Homo sapiens: one gene and its partner. The protein of the gene in region 1 interacts with the protein of each later gene in a pairwise test. Each region holds a gene or a part of one and is shown in the gene's direction. Other genes may lie near its edges.

Region 1 (3,500 bases):
AATATATATTATACATAATATATATAATATATATATAATATATAATATATATTATACATAATATATATAATATATATATAATATATAATATATATTATACATAATATATATTATATATATAACATATATTATACATAATATATATTATATATATAACATATATTATACATAATATATAATATATAATATATATTATGTATAATATATAATATATATTATACATAATATATATAATATATTATATATATTATACATAATATATAATATATATTATATAATATATATAATATATATTATACATATTATGTATAATATATATAACATATATTATACATAATATGTATATAACATACATAATATATATTATACATAATATATATAATATATAATATATATTATACATAATATATATAATATATAATATATAATATATATTATACATATATATAATAATATATATATACTATATATAATATATATATGAGAGTGTGCACATATATGTACAAATGTGTATGTGTATGGTCCCTTCATAACCATGAGTTCAGCATCTGCAGATTCAACCAACTGCAGATTGAAAATAATCGGGAAAAAATGAAAATAACAATACGACAGTAAAAACTAATACAAATTGTATTTATTTTTATTTATTTTTTGAGACAGAGTCTTGCTCTGTCGCCCAGGCTAGAGTGCAGTGGCGCAATCTCGGCTCACTGCAACCTCTGCCTCCTGGGTTCAAGCAATTCTCTGCCTCAGCCTCCTGAGTAGCTGGGACTACAGGTGCATGCCACCACACCCAGCTAATTTTTGTATTTTTAGTAGAGATGGGGTTTCACTATGTTGCCCAGGCTGGTCTCAAACTCCTGGCCTCAAACGAATCACCCACCTTGACCTCCTAAAGTGCTGGGATTACAGGCGTGAGCCATCGTGCTGGGCCCAAATTTTAAAATACAGTATAACAAATATTTGTATAGCATTTATATTATTAGGTATTATAAGTAATCTAGAGATTATTTAAAGTATACAGGATGACGTGAATTTAAGTTACATGGAAATACTACACCCTTTTATGTCAGGGACTTGAACATCTAAGGGTTTTTAGTTAGGGGGAGCCGGTCCTAGAACCAATCCCCTGTAAATGCCAAGGGATGACTATATATATATATATATATATACATACATTTCTGTATTACTATTATTATTTTTGCCCTCATTTTACCCTATTTCACAATTTCTCTTCGGTTGTTACATGTTTGGAATTTATTCTACAAAATTGTGAGGTTTTTTTCTTTTGCAGTATTCCTTATGATATGTTTTAGTCAAACTGCAGAAGCTAAATATATAGTTTTCCAGTGAAATAAGTAGTCTTTTGACTCTATGGTCTGTTTCTACTTGCATGATCTTTGTGTGTTACTGCTTTCTGGTTCTTATGTATGAGTGGGTTTTCTCTTTTTGTAGCTAGGGTATCTCACCAAGAGTTTGATGTTAAAATAGACAAATGTCAAAAATATGTCATATTTTGTATCCTTTTATTATTACTGTTTTTCTTTGTGTGGCTTTTGACTCATTAATCTTTGCTCTGGCTTTATCTTACCCCACTTTAGCTTTTTTATGTGCTTTAGAAATGCACCAAGTATGGCAAGTTGACTGACTTTGCCTATGATTGTTTTGTATTTGAACAGGAGCTAGACTAAAACTACTGGTAAAACAAAGAATCCAACATAAAGTGATTTAATGACATGGGAGAAATTTGAAAAAATCTGGTATGATCTATGAAACTGGAGTTTTGTGTGAAAAATACTGAAAATCTGGTATCATCTGTGGAAACCGATACAGATACTATGTCTACTTCCTGAGCTTTTGCCAGTGCAGGCTGGCATAGAGCATGTAAAGATGATTATATTAAATCTATTTTTGGCTTGAATTGTTCACGCATTTCTTCCTTTTATTATTTTTTTATTTTTTTCTTTTTCAGATTTACAGCCAGTTACTTACTCAGAACCTGCATTTTGGTGTTCGATAGCATATTATGAATTAAATCAGAGGGTTGGAGAAACCTTCCATGCATCACAGCCCTCACTCACTGTAGATGGCTTTACAGACCCATCAAATTCAGAGAGGTTCTGCTTAGGTTTACTCTCCAATGTTAACCGAAATGCCACGGTAGAAATGACAAGAAGGCATATAGGTATGTTTTATTTTCCTTGTTGTGAAAAATAAATGCTGTATACTCATAATGTAGGCATTGCATGGTGTGCCACATCAAGAGCTTGTGTGCAGTAAAACCAGCTTTCTCTCTGGTGGTTTAAGTGCCGACACATTTAAGTGCACAGGCTTCACTGCTTCTAATAGATCCTGGTGATGCTTCAGCTGCAAACTCTTCAACTTTTATTTGGCACCCTTGGTACTGGAAAGTTCTTCAATAAATATGTGTTAAGATAAGTTTAATTTGCTGAGTCTCTACCAGTCATAAAATTGCCATGTTCAGATTTGGGGGTTAATACTTTTTTATAAATCATGTTTTTTTGTTTTGTTTTGTTTTTGTTTTTTTTCAGTTTCTTTATATAGCTCCCAGGTTTTTTCCCCCTTTGGTGAGTTTATATATTAAATGAAATCTGCTTGCTGTTCATCTGAAATGAGATATCTAAAACAAGAACTGCATTTAATATAGTTCAAAATATAATTCAGGGACATCTCAAAATGTGGTCTGGGGACTTCTGGTAGTCCCAGAAACCCTTTCAGCTAGTTTGTGAGGTCAAAGCTATTTTCATAGTAGTACTGAGATGCTGTTTGCCATTTCTACTCTCATACTCTCATGACTGTACAGTGGAGTATTCCAGAGCCTACATGCATATGATTTTGCAAGAGATGAAATGTAGATTTGATAATGAGACTCCAATTCTGTTACACTAGACATGAATGTTGAAATGTTGCCACTCTATTTTTTTTTTTTTTTTTTTTTGCTTTGGAAATATAGTTGTTTTTCATAGACAAAAATGGTGAAATGTTGCCACTCTATTTTTTTTTTTTTTGCTTTGGAAATACAGTTGTTTTTTATAAACATTGTTAATATGTAATGGATTTGATTTTTAAATGAATTTTTTAAATCTCAGTTTTTATATCTAATATGGTCATTTTCCATAATATTCACATAAACAAAAGCTCTTTGGGGTCCTCAGTATTTCCTTAACGATGAAGTGAAAAAGTGTGAGAACCATTCATAATTGAACATCATTCTCATCACCTTAAAGTAACTTCTTTTAACAGTAGTTTGCTTCTGTTTTTTTTCTAATTAACCATTACCTCCTGTGAGAAGTAATGCTGGTTATCAAAGTGTGATTTTGATACTGCAAAATGATAGTGACTAGAAGATCTATTACTTGGTTCCAAGTGGAAGTTCTCAAATCTTGCTTGATGTATAAATTTGGATAATCTTATTAAGATACCCAGTGTCGCTGTAGGTGCTTTAACTAAAATAGTTTTTTGTTTTTGTGACTTAATTG
Region 2 (3,500 bases), on another chromosome or scaffold:
AATGCTAGGATTACAGGCGTGAGCCACCATGCCCAGTGGTGGTCTACTCTTACATGTCTGTTGGAGGCCACATTTGCCAGATATTGTTGCTCCCGTCTTTTTTTTTTTTTTTTTTTTTTTTTTTTTGAGACAGAGTTTCGCTCTTATTGCCCAGGCTGGAGTACAATGGCGCGATCTCAGTTCACTGCAATCTCCACCTCCCAGATTCAAGTGATTCTCCTGTCTCAGCCTCCCAAGTAGCCGGGGTTACAGGTGCCCACCACCATGCCTAGCTTGTTTTTTGTATTTTTAGTAGAGATGGGATTTTACAGCCTAGCCGGCTGGTCTTAACTCCTGACCTGAGGTGATCCGACCTCCTCGTCCTCTCAATTGCTGGGATTACAGGCATGAGCCATGGCGCCTGGCCCGCCCCAGTCTAATTATTAGTCTGACATAAGTGTATTTTGGATAAACTACTTTTCCTAATATTCTTGCTCTGTGTTTATGTGAAAAACATCTGAGAACCATGATAAAGGTTTAAAAAAAAAAAGATGATGGATTAATTTACTTAACTGAAACAATGTGCTGAGGTTTGGTTAACACTGAAACCATCCTTCGTCTGGGATGTAATCCCTTTTTGTCCCAGAATTCACTGATTTGAATACATTTTCGATTTTAGGAAGGTGTGAGTTTCTTTCTGATCTTTTTGCTGTGTTATATTTTGCAGTATTTGAATTAGTGTTTGTGGTGTATTTTGATATTGCTTGTAATTTTATGTGAATTTGAGAAATTTAAAGGAATTTAAGAAAATTTCAAACACCCATACTTTAAGAAAGATTCTTTTCTTTGGTTCATATTTAATACGTACTTGAGTGGTTGTTTTATTATGCTTACCACTTCACGTTTTAAAAACGTACTCAGAACATTGTGAAGTACACTTATTTTTTAGGGTCTGTGAGGAAGGTGAATGACAATATTTCCACCTCTTAGATGAGTCACATGCTCCTGGTTGTATAACCAGAATCAGGAGTTGAATACAGGGCTTCTAACTCGAAGTTTAGTAATTTTTCACTATTTGCCCCTGAAGCACATGTTAGTAGCAGAAACTGAATTTTGAGAAACATTAACTTTTCTTATCAATTTACCTTAGTACAGGTTGAGCATCCCAAATCCAAAATCTGAAATGCTCTAAAGGCCAAAACTTTTTGAATGCTGACATGGCACTCACAGGAAATGCTCATTGGAGTATTTCAGATTTTGATTTTTGGATTTGGGATGCTCAACTGCCATATCGTGCACATATTCCAGAATCTGAAAAAATCAGAAATTCAAAATACTTTTGGTCCCAAGCATTTCTGATAAGGGATATTCAGCCTCTATGATGGTTCTCAAACTCTGTTTTAACCTGCATATAAATTTAAATACTAAGGTATTTAACTGAGAATGAGATAGTCCTTGACTGAGGAACAGTTTTTATTTTCTTCTGTGAGTCATTGAGTTGGTTGCCAAACAAGCCAAATTGACCCAGAGGGAGCTCATTTTAAAAAGTCAAACTAGGCTTTTTTTTTTTTTTTTTTTTTGAGATGGAGTTTCGCTCTTGCGCCCAGGCTGGAGTGCAATGGCGCGATCTTGGCTCACTGCAACCTCCGCCTCCTGGATTCAAGCGATTCTCCTGCCTCAGCCTCCCAAGTAGCTGCAATTACAGGCGTCTGCCACCATACCCAGCTAATTTTTTTATTTTTAGTCCAGACGGGGTTTCACCATGCTGGCCAGGCTGATCTTGAACTCCTGACCTCAGATGATCCACCTGCCTCGGCCTCCCAAAGTGCTGGGATTACAGGCATGAGCCATTGCGCCTGGCCTTTTTTTTTTTTTTTTTTAAGACTGTACTAAATATATTAACGTGTTATGTAAAGGACCTGATGTTTGGTGTGAATACTGACATGATTTGACATGCGTATATAGTTTATGTAATCAAAGTATTGCTTTTGGATTAAAAAAAGTCCTGAAACTCAGTAAGTTGTTCGAAATGAAACAACTTAATTATTTTACAATTATAAAATATGTAATATATTAATACATTTTAATGTTAATAAGTTGTAGTATCTTGTAAATTATAAATAATTTGAAATGAGACAACTTAATTAAATATAGCTAATAACTCTTTCTTACTCAAGTCGCCATAAGAAATATACTTGATTTTAGGCCAGGCGCGGTGGCTCATGCCTGTAATCCCAGCACTTTGGGAGGCTGAGTTGGGTGGATCACCTGAGGTCAGGGGTTCGGGACCAGCCTGGCCAATATGGTGAAACGCCATCTCTACTGAAAATACAAAAGTTAGCAGGGGATGGTGACACACGCCTGTAATCCCAGCTACTTGGGAGGCTGAGGCAGGCTTGAACCCAGGAGGTGGAGGTTTCAGTGAGCCGAGTTCACACTGCCCTTCATCCTGGGTGACAGAGTGAAACTCTGTCTCAAAACACACACACACACACACACACAGACACACACACACACACACATACTTGATTTTAGATCTGCCTATGTTGTTCTACAGAATGTTGTCAAGTTACTTACCTGATACGAGCTTTTTGTGTTTTTTATTGGAATAATCATTATTTTACTTTAAACTGTATAAATACATGCAAACATCACATTCCTGATTCTTTTTCACATCTTCAGTGGATATTCAGCAAAATCAGAAGTAGATCAAATATATGTAAACAAAAATAGAAAATTAAAATAAATTTGATCTAATTCTAATTTTGTTGAATATTACGTTTGTATGAAAAAAAGATCAACAGGCAAATTAATCATTTGTAAATAAAATTTGAAGAGTAATGTTTACTTAAGATTATTTTCAAACATATTGGAAGTGGTCATTTGTTGTAGGTGATTCTTCACTTTTTTTGTTTGTTTGTTTGTTTTTTTTGAGACGAGAGTCTCGCTCTGTTGACCAGGCTGGAGTGCAGTGGCGCGATGTCAGCTCACTGCAAACTCCACCTCCCAGGTTCACGCCATTCTCCTGCCTCAGCCCCCTGAGTAGCTGGGACTACAGGTACCCATCACCACGCCTGGCTAATTTTTTCTATTTTTTTAGTAGAGACGGGGTTTCACCGTGTTAGCCAGGATGGTCTCGATCTCCTGACGTCGTCATCCTCCCAAAGTGCTAGGATTACAGGCGTGAGCCACTGCGCCTGGCCGATTCTTCCCTATTGTAGCATGTGGCTGACAGTCTCCACTTTACTAAGTTAAGAACTATATATACCCTTTTTTTTTTTTTTTAAATTGAGATGGAGTTTCGCCCTTGTTGCCCAGGCTGGAGTGCAATGGCGCAATCTTGGCTCACTGCAACTTCCGCCTCCCAGGTTCAAGCAATTCTCCTGCCTCAGTGTCCCTAGTAGCTGGGATTACAGGTGCCTGCCACCACACCCAGCTAATTTTTTGTATTTTTAGTAGAGATGGGGGTTTCACTATGTTGGCCAGGCTGGTCTCGAACTCCTGATCTCAGGCAATCCACC

What was found. Proteins that work in one complex are often made in the same cells at the same time.
Region 2: the proteins of SMAD2 (region 1) and SKIL interact in binary tests that used the Homo sapiens proteins (3 or more experiments, as listed by UniProt).

The regions. Positions count from the first base shown.
Region 1 is NC_000018.10:47,847,160-47,850,659, reverse strand, and holds part of SMAD2 (mothers against decapentaplegic homolog 2), read left to right. Parts: intron 1-1,972; coding exon 1,973-2,185; intron 2,186-3,500. UniProt on the Homo sapiens protein: Receptor-regulated SMAD (R-SMAD) that is an intracellular signal transducer and transcriptional modulator activated by TGF-beta (transforming growth factor) and activin type 1 receptor kinases.
Region 2 is NC_000003.12:170,364,215-170,367,714, forward strand, and holds part of SKIL (ski-like protein), read left to right. Parts: intron 1-3,500. UniProt on the Homo sapiens protein: May have regulatory role in cell division or differentiation in response to extracellular signals.